Regions from separate parts of the Homo sapiens genome. Here all the other regions are linked to region 2. Evidence: fine-mapped QTL for protein levels in blood plasma. Region 2 holds a variant in brackets. A gene starts in each other region. All regions are shown on their forward strands. Region 1 holds the start of SIT1 (signaling threshold regulating transmembrane adaptor 1). Region 2 overlaps TMC8 (transmembrane channel like 8). Region 3 holds the start of CD6 (CD6 molecule).

The links. PIP is the chance, under the fine-mapping model, that this variant and not a neighbour inherited with it causes the effect. The UK Biobank Pharma Proteomics Project read protein levels with antibody pairs (Olink). The fine-mapping took linkage between variants from a reference panel, not from the people measured, so its PIPs are less certain.
Region 1: it holds the start of SIT1, and the variant in region 2 is fine-mapped to the plasma level of the SIT1 protein (UK Biobank, PIP 0.98).
Region 3: it holds the start of CD6, and the variant in region 2 is fine-mapped to the plasma level of the CD6 protein (UK Biobank, PIP above 0.99).

What each region holds. Positions count from the first base shown.
Region 1 is chr9:35,650,664-35,653,379 of GRCh38, forward strand. SIT1 (signaling threshold regulating transmembrane adaptor 1) reads right to left here and starts at 268. Exons shown (of 5, transcript NM_014450.3): 1 at 91-268. The coding sequence starts at 190. RefSeq lists a silencer at 1-48.
Region 2 is chr17:78,134,052-78,136,806 of GRCh38, forward strand. It overlaps TMC8 (transmembrane channel like 8), which reads left to right. Exons shown (of 16, transcript NM_152468.5): 8 at 343-513; 9 at 819-958. Among named protein-coding and RNA genes, the nearest start is that of TMC8, 4.7 kb to the left of the region's middle. RefSeq lists enhancers at 1-216, 217-742, 457-566. The variant G/T (reference allele first, on the strand shown) is at 815.
Region 3 is chr11:60,970,123-60,972,879 of GRCh38, forward strand. It overlaps CD6 (CD6 molecule), which reads left to right and starts at 1,558. Exons shown (of 13, transcript NM_006725.5): 1 at 1,558-1,792. The coding sequence starts at 1,744.

The DNA of each region.
Region 1 (2,716 bases), not on the chromosome of region 2:
TAACAGCCCCGCCCCACCCCCAGGGCCCAGCAGGTGGGACCTGGGGCCACATGACCCCTCCCCCACCAGCCCCTGCCCTGCCCAGCTCACCCAGTGCGAGTAGATCCGTGCAGTTGTCGCCTCTGCTCATGGCTGCAGATGTGAGAGTCCACAAGCACACTGCTCTGAGCCGAGGGTCAGCCTGGTTCATGGCCTGACGGTTTCCACAGCACTTCTTACTCCCATCCCTCCTCAGGCCCGTACCCCGCAGCTCAGCATCCCCAATACTGGTGGTGGCAAAGTCTCTGGTTTCCGGGGAGGAAGGGGGAGGGGAGGGATGAAAAAAAGAACAAAGACCCCGCCCTGTGCCTGCACCTGCGCCACTCCTGCAGCTCCTGAGCTTCCCCCACCCTCGCTGCCCAGGCCCTTTGCCCCCCTTGAGAAGAGAAGCAGGCCTGTGGGTAATGTGCCACGGGCAGTTGAGTCCCTGAGGACTCTGAGGGCGGGGGGTGGGGGCAGAAGTGGTGTGAAGCAGGACTAACAAGGACAGGAACACCCCTTCTGCTCCAGGATGCCCACCTTCCTCCCTGACTCTGGTCCCAGAAGAAAGATGTATTCCTCAATGAGTATGGTATAAAGTGGAAGGGTCGGGGGAGCCTCCTGGTACCTCTGATCCCATCACACCCTAAGGCTGATCTGAGAGGATATGTGTTTAGATGATGCTTGTTATTGTTTCATTGGGGGCATTATAATTTGGGGGACACCCCCAAACCTCCCCTTTCAACCCACTTCATCCAAACTGTCTGTAAGAACTGTCACTCTCAATAATTAATTGCATTTTAAAACTCTTTGCTGTAGGACTGTCCTGGGAAACTGAGCCCTATCTTGCACATGTTCACTTCAGCGGGTGTAGTACCTGCCATACCTAGAGCTAACTCCATCACGTGCAAGGCTATTGATGTAGGAAGAGGGATTTTAAGTTGCAAATATAAACCTGAGACCAGAAGTCAGAGATGTGTTTTGTCTAGCCCATACAACATTTTTTAAAAGTTTAAAATCAGTGCAGTGGCATGCCAACAATAGGGATGGCAGAAGTCCTGCCCCTTGAGTTGCAGGCAATAAGGGGGTGCATTGTCTGTAGAGAATTTAAAAAATAAAAATCAGTCCTCTTATTATCACCATGTTCCAGAAATTCTGAAAAAAAAAATCAGTGATAAAATTATCCTCCCTGAAAAATATTTTATGGATCTAAGTTTTATATTTTTTTTGAGACAGGGTCTTACTTTGTCTCCCAGGTTGGAGTGCAGTAACACAATCTCAGCTCACTGCAGCCTTGACGATCTCCCGGGCTCAAGTGATCCTCCCATCTCAGCCACCTAAGCAGCTAGGACTACAGGCATGTGCCACCACACCCAGCTAATCTAGTTCATTTTTTGTAGAGATAGGTCTCCCTGTGTTGCCAGGCTGGTCTCAACTCCTGACCTCAAGCAACCTGCCCACCTCGGTCTCCCAAAGTGCTGGAATTACAGGCATGAGCCACTGCGCCCAGCCCAGATCTAACTTTTAAATTGCTGTAGTGGACCAGGTGCAGTGGCTCATTCCTGTAATACCAGCACTTTGGAGGCCAAGGCAGCAGGAGGATTGCTTGAGGCCAGGAGTTCAAAACCAGTCTGAGCAATATAGTGAGACCCTCCATCTCTACCAAAAAACAAACAAAAACAGTAGACAGGCCTGATGACACAAGCGTGTAGTCCTAGCTACTTGGGAGACTGAGGTGGGAGGATCACTTGAGCCCAGGAGTTGGAGGCTGCAGGGAGCTATGATTATGCCACTGCACTCCAGCCTGGGCGACAGACGGAGAGACCCTGTCTCTACAGTAGATGCACAAATACCATTGTCTTACAACTGCCTACAGTATTCAGTATGGTAACATGCTGTAAGCATTGGGGCCTAGGAGCACCAGGCTATACCATGTAGCCTAGATGGGTAATAGGCTACACCATCTAGGTTTGTGAAAATACACTCTATGATGTTTGCACAATGACAAAATTGCCTAGTGACTCATTTCTCAGAACATATCCCTGTTGTTAAGCAATGCATGGCTGTTTTTATGCTGACATGATTATATTTACAAAGTTCAAGGAAAGAAAATATTCACTGAGTTTATTTCTTGGCCCTTATTATTCATTTTATAATTGCCATTGAGAATAATTTTGTCATATAAAGAATGTTTAAATTTGTTTTAATTTTATTTATTTATTTATCTGAGATGGAGTCTCCCTCTGTCGCTCAGACCAGACCGCAGTGGCACAATCTCGGCTCACTTGCCCAGGCTGGAGAGAAGTGGCGTGCCTGGCCATAAAGCATTTTTTTAAATGATCCACTTGAAAAATAAAACTTTGTTCCAGGCATGGTGGCTCATGCCTGCAATTCCAGCACGTTGGGAGGGTGAGGCAAGAGGATCGCTTGAGCCCAGGAGTTCAAGAACAGCTTGGGCAACATGGCAAAACCCCGTCTTTACCAAAAATACAAAAAATTAGCCAGGTGTGATGGTGCACGCCTGTGGTCCCAGCTACTCGAGAGGCTGAGGTGGGAGGATTGCTTGAGCCTAGGAGGTAGAGGTTTCAGTGAGCCAAGATCAAGCCTCTGCACTCCAGCCTGGGCAACAGAGTGAGACCCTGCCCCCCACCCCCAAAAAAAGAAAGAAAACAAGAAAAATTTGGGTCTGGGCATGGTG
Region 2 (2,755 bases):
CGAGTGCGTGAGAGCCACGTGTTCCAGGTGTGTGCGAGCAAGTGCGACCGTGCCAGTGTGTGTGAGCGTGTGTGGGAGGGAGCCTGTGGGAGCGTGATGGAGAGCGTGTGAATGTGTGTGCATGTGTGGCCGAGTGTGAGGGCACATGTGACTGAATGGGTGATGGCGAGCACGCCTGTGAATGTGTGAATCTGAGTGTCTATGGGAGCATGACAGTGTGAGAGTTTGTGACTGTGTATGTGAGCGTGAATGGTTGTGACTGTGTGTGAGAGCGTTTCCTGCACCCTTTCCTCCCATGCCCACCCCGCCTGCAGCTGCCTCTGTCCCCACCCTTCCGGGCAGGTGGAGCTGGAGGAGGGCCGTCGCTTCCAGCTGATGCAGCAGCAGACCCGGGCCCAGACGGCCTGCCGCCTGCTCTCCTACCTGCGGGTCAACGTACTCAACGGGCTCCTGGTGGTTGGGGCCATCAGCGCCATCTTCTGGGCTACCAAGTACTCACAGGACAACAAGGAGGTGTCAGGCAACTGCATTCATTTAATCCTGGCCAGAACTGCGGGGGTGAGACAGGATGATCCCATTTTACAGATGAGGAAACCGAGGCTCAGAGAGGTTCAATCGGTCGTGGCCACAGGTCACGGCCAAGGCAGGCGGGCTCCCACTGGATATTCCCGCCAACTGCCAGGCTGCTGCAGGGAATAGCTTACAGGCGACCCTATTCTGGGCCTGCCCCAGAGTTACACTTTAGGGCACTGTGGGGGGCGGGGAGCAGACAGGGGCCCCCCAGCACGCGGGCTCCCCTGACCTGCCTTTTCCC[G/T]CAGGAGTCCCTGTTTCTGCTGCTCCAGTACCTGCCCCCTGGGGTCATCGCCCTGGTCAACTTCCTGGGTCCCCTGCTGTTCACATTTCTGGTCCAGCTGGAGAACTACCCTCCCAACACGGAGGTCAACCTCACTCTGATCTGGTGAGTGCCACCCTTGGTGGGGACAAGTGGGCATGTAACAAGTCTGCATCCTGCTGCTCTCTTTTGGTTGTCACCTGGCACCTGGGGTCCCCAGCTGAGAGGCTTCCCCCTTCACTAGTGGCCCAAGGGAAGGCAGGTACACACCTCACAGCACACGACCTCAGGGCCCCAGGTCTAAGGCTTTCCAATCCCCCACCTCCAAAGGAAGCCGCCAGTCTGGACCAAGCTCCGGCCATTCAGTGGAGCAAGGGACTGTGGCCAGGGGTGCTGGGAATGGGCTTTGCACACAGGAAAACCAGCAACACGGGACATGCAGAGCTTCTACATGCCGAGGGTTTACTCCCCTTACCTGGACAACCCTCACGTGACCCGTGAAGTCCAGACCATCCTCATCCCCCTTGAGGGATGAGGAAACTGAGGTTCACATGAGTGAAGCGCCCAGCCAAAGTCAAGCTCATCGTGCCTGCCAGGTGCAAGTTCAAAAGCAAGCCCTCGACCTCCTGGGCTCAAGCGATCCTCCCGCCGGAGCAGCTGGGACTACCACTCCCAGGTTCTGCCATCTTCTGTCTCAGCACTTAGGTCCTGTCTAGACCCCCTACTTCTCCACCCCTCATCCAGCTGCAGAAATTCTTGTGTAAAGCCCACCTGAGCTCCCACTGGCTTCTCTCCCTCACGCCACCCTCAGTCACCACTTGCCCTAACTGCTTTTCCCTCTGCTTCCTCAAAGTCAGCTGTGTTTGGTTTGCTTTGAAACTTTATTTTTTGAGGCCGGGCATGGTGGCTCACGCCTGTAATCCCAGAACTTTGGGAGGCCAAGGTGGATCACCTGAGGTCAGGAGTTCGAGACCAGCCTGGCCAACATGGTGAAACCCTGTCTCTACTAAAAACACAAAAATCAGCCAGGTGTGGTGGTGCACACCTGTAATCCCAGCTACCCGGGAAGCTGAGGCAGGAGAATCACTCGAACCCAGGAGACAGATGTTGCAGTGAGCAGAGATTGCGCCACTACACTCCAGCCTGGGTGACAGAGTGTGACTTCATCTCAAAAAAGAAAACAAAACAAAAAAAGCTCTCACCTACCCCTAGCTCCCTCAACAGGAGAACCACTGTTCCCAGCCACTCTGTAGCCCCATATCAGCAGTGGGAATGTTCACCCTTAGAGATAACACGCAACCAGGCACAGTGACTCACGCCTGTAAAGGCCAACACTTTGGAAGGCCAAGATGGGAGAATCACTTGATCCCAGGAGTTTGAGACCGGCCTGGGCAACATGGCAAGACCCCGTCTCTACAAAAAATACAAAAAAATTAACTGGGCATGATGAAAGACTAGGACACACAGTCCTAGCTACTAGAGAAGCTGAGGTGGGAGGATCACTTAAGCCCAGGAGGTCAAGGCTACAGGGAGCTGTGATCGCGTCACTGCACTCCAGCCTAGGCAATGGAGTGAGACCCTATCTCAAAAAAAAAAAGCAAAAACAGATAACATGCATGTGATGATGTTTCGTTTAGACAATCACCTATTTGGTCTGGTCATGCATTGTGCAGTACATATGTGTGGCACGTGTTTATGACATGCAAGCTTGTGTCAGTGGGCTTCAATGTCCATAGGCGGCGGAGGAAAGGAGGAGCTCGCCTGCAGTCAGGATCCTGAAAAGGCCACAGGCTTCTCCACCGCAGGGCTTGCTGCATGTGCCTCTCCACACCAGGCATGAGGGAACATGGCTGGACTGTGCAGTGTTTCTCAAACTGATCTAAAAACAGAACCCTTGGCCAGGCGCCGTGGCCCACACCTGTA
Region 3 (2,757 bases), not on the chromosome of region 2:
TCACCACCTCAGCTACACATTTTAAAAGATGGTTTACAATATTTTTGTGGTGTTTTGTATTAGGAGAATTCTTCAGCATCTGCTGTCTACCATATTGTCAGAAATGGAGTCTAGCCATCCTTCCCGGCCCATTTCAAACGGGTTCCTCTTAGGACCAGGAGACCTCACATTATGTGTGTCCTACCTTGGCCTGTGGTTTGGTCACTTGTGTGTGTGTGAACTTCATCCTCCTTGAGGGCAGGAATATGGTTTCCTCTCTTTCACTTCCACAGAGTCCTGTCCAGAGTTCTGCACACCAAGACTGTGTAAATGAATGGAATTGCATCTGGGAGCTCGAGGCACCCATGCAAACCTGTGCTGCCAGTGACTTCCACCAGAGGGCAGCGGCAGCAGGTGCCGGCGCTGGGGCAGGACTGGGAGGAGTCTCACTCTGGGGGCGCCTGGTTCCCCGTGGCTCTAATACTTGCCGCATCAAATGCATACACCCACATTTAGGACCGAACCCAATGGAGGAGGACCGCTCCTCATTCCACATGTTGGGGAAATGAAGACAAGCAAGGATGCAGGAAGTGGAGGGCCAGGAGAGGTGGACCTGGGATGGGACCAATTGAGGCAGGGCCAGGATTTGGAACCAAACCCCTTCTGGATTTGACCACTTCCAGGGCCCTGCTTGGACAACCAAATTATCTATTCCTTTTCTCATTCAATAAACATTTATTCACCTCCTACCATATGCTCCACAGGGAGTACCATGGGAATTAAACACGCTTGGCCCCTGCCTTCTTCCTATAGCGTCAGTCTGCTGCAGTGCAATGGGGCAACTCGGGGTTTCTCAGGCAGCCCTGGGCTTCCTTCCTTCAGCCCTTTGCTCCTGCTATTCCTTCTGGCCCAGAGGCCTCCCATGATTGCTGTTTGTCAAAATCCTGCTCAGCCTTGTAGACCCAGCTCCCATGCCTGACTCCCACGGAGGCATGCCCAGTCTGGTACCTGGAGATGGGATAGCTGGCCCCACTGTGCCATCTGACGGGGCGGCTCCCACAAGGCCTTGGCACCCTTCCCTGTAGAAGGACTTGTGGGATGGCCATCTCTCAGGCCCTTCCCAATTTATATTTCTCTGAGGGGAGACTTAGGCTCTTATCTCCAAAAGTGCATCAAGACCACACCCTCCTTCCCAACCACCATTGCACCTAAGGTTAAGATAAAACTCAGGATTTAATCCAAGAGAGCCAAATTACACGGACCGGGACAGGCAATGGGTCATTCACTCCCTCTTCCAATATGTACTGATTGAGCAGCTACTACATTATCAATTTTTTCTTCTGGGCCACCAGAAATGAGGCATGGCTCTTCCACTTCCCTTCTTCTTAGAAGACCCTCGGGGAAGTGTGTCTGCATGGATGCGTGTGCATGCGTGTGTCTGGCTCCGTGACTCTTGGGGTGCAGCCTGGATGGGTGGGCTCCCAGCACAGGCAGCTGGGGCTCTCCCCACCAGCCCCTGTAACAGCAGCCCAGCTTCCTGCAGACCAAAACCACAAGCAGAACAAGCAGGCGTGAGACACTCACAGGTTGGGTTTGATCGCATGCGTGTCGGAGAGGAGAGAGCAGAGAGAGACACAGGAACAAGAACAGCAAAGGGTAGAGCAGACCTGCGCCAGGGGCGCACAACGGCCGTGTCCACCTCCCGGCCCCAAGATGGTGCTTCCCACAGGCAGCCACGCGTAGCAGCCAGAGACAGCTCCAGACATGTGGCTCTTCTTCGGGATCACTGGATTGCTGACGGCAGCCCTCTCAGGTAGGCCCCCTTCCCTCATCTCCTGCCACTGGTGCTGGAGGAGCCGGGTCCGGCCCTCTCAGTCCCCTTTCTGGTTGTTTCCTTGTGGTCACTTTTCTAGGATCTTTTAGCCAAGACTACACTCAGGTACCAGGGAGGTCCAGCATCTGGGGCTAGGAGAGGACACAGGAGCCCCTCGAGGGGCTGGGGCTGTGCCTGGAAGCCTCCTGGAGTGACAGAATGTGGGAAGCATGCTTTGTGCCTTACCAATGGGTCCCTAGGGTGTGAGGAGGGAGGTGCCTCTCCCATCCTTAAGCTCAGGAACTCCCCCATTTCCTATTTCTTGCCAACTCTTAAGAAGGAACCGTTCACCTTCCAGAGAGGCAGGACCACTGATGGTGGTACTTTCAACGCCAAAGCTGAGGCTTGGGGTCCAGCAGGCGTAGGCCAATCACAGGAGAGCACCTCCCGAAACAGGACTCAGGGAAGCCAGGGAGAGTTCTGGACAACCAGGCGCTGATGGCCTCAGCACAACCAGCTGGGGTAGTCTAGGGCATAAGCGAGCATGAAGGCCACCCCCACGTCTCAAGCTGCCCCCAAGTGTCAAGGCACCTGGCCACCTGGGCCAGGGAATCAGATGGCCAGAAGGTTTGGGGCACTAGACTGTGCTCCCCAGATACTTGCTGGCCCCTGTTGAGTGCAGGGTCCAAGCTGGCCAGAGCGGGGCAGGGGCCTGGAGATGCAAGAGATCCTGACCCCATCGAGCTCTCACATTTTGGGATTTGGGAAGACTGGTATGGAAACAGAATTCGGGCCAGGGGAGTCTGGGTCCACCTTGCAGCCAGAGAGCCAAGTGCTTTCATTTTGTGATGGAGGAGACCCAGGAAGACCCAGTCAGGAGGGGGCATCGAGCTGGTTTGGAGGACTGGGTACATGTCGCGAGACTCTGGGCAGGGAGTGCTCTCCTCTCTGCCTTGATCTCCAGG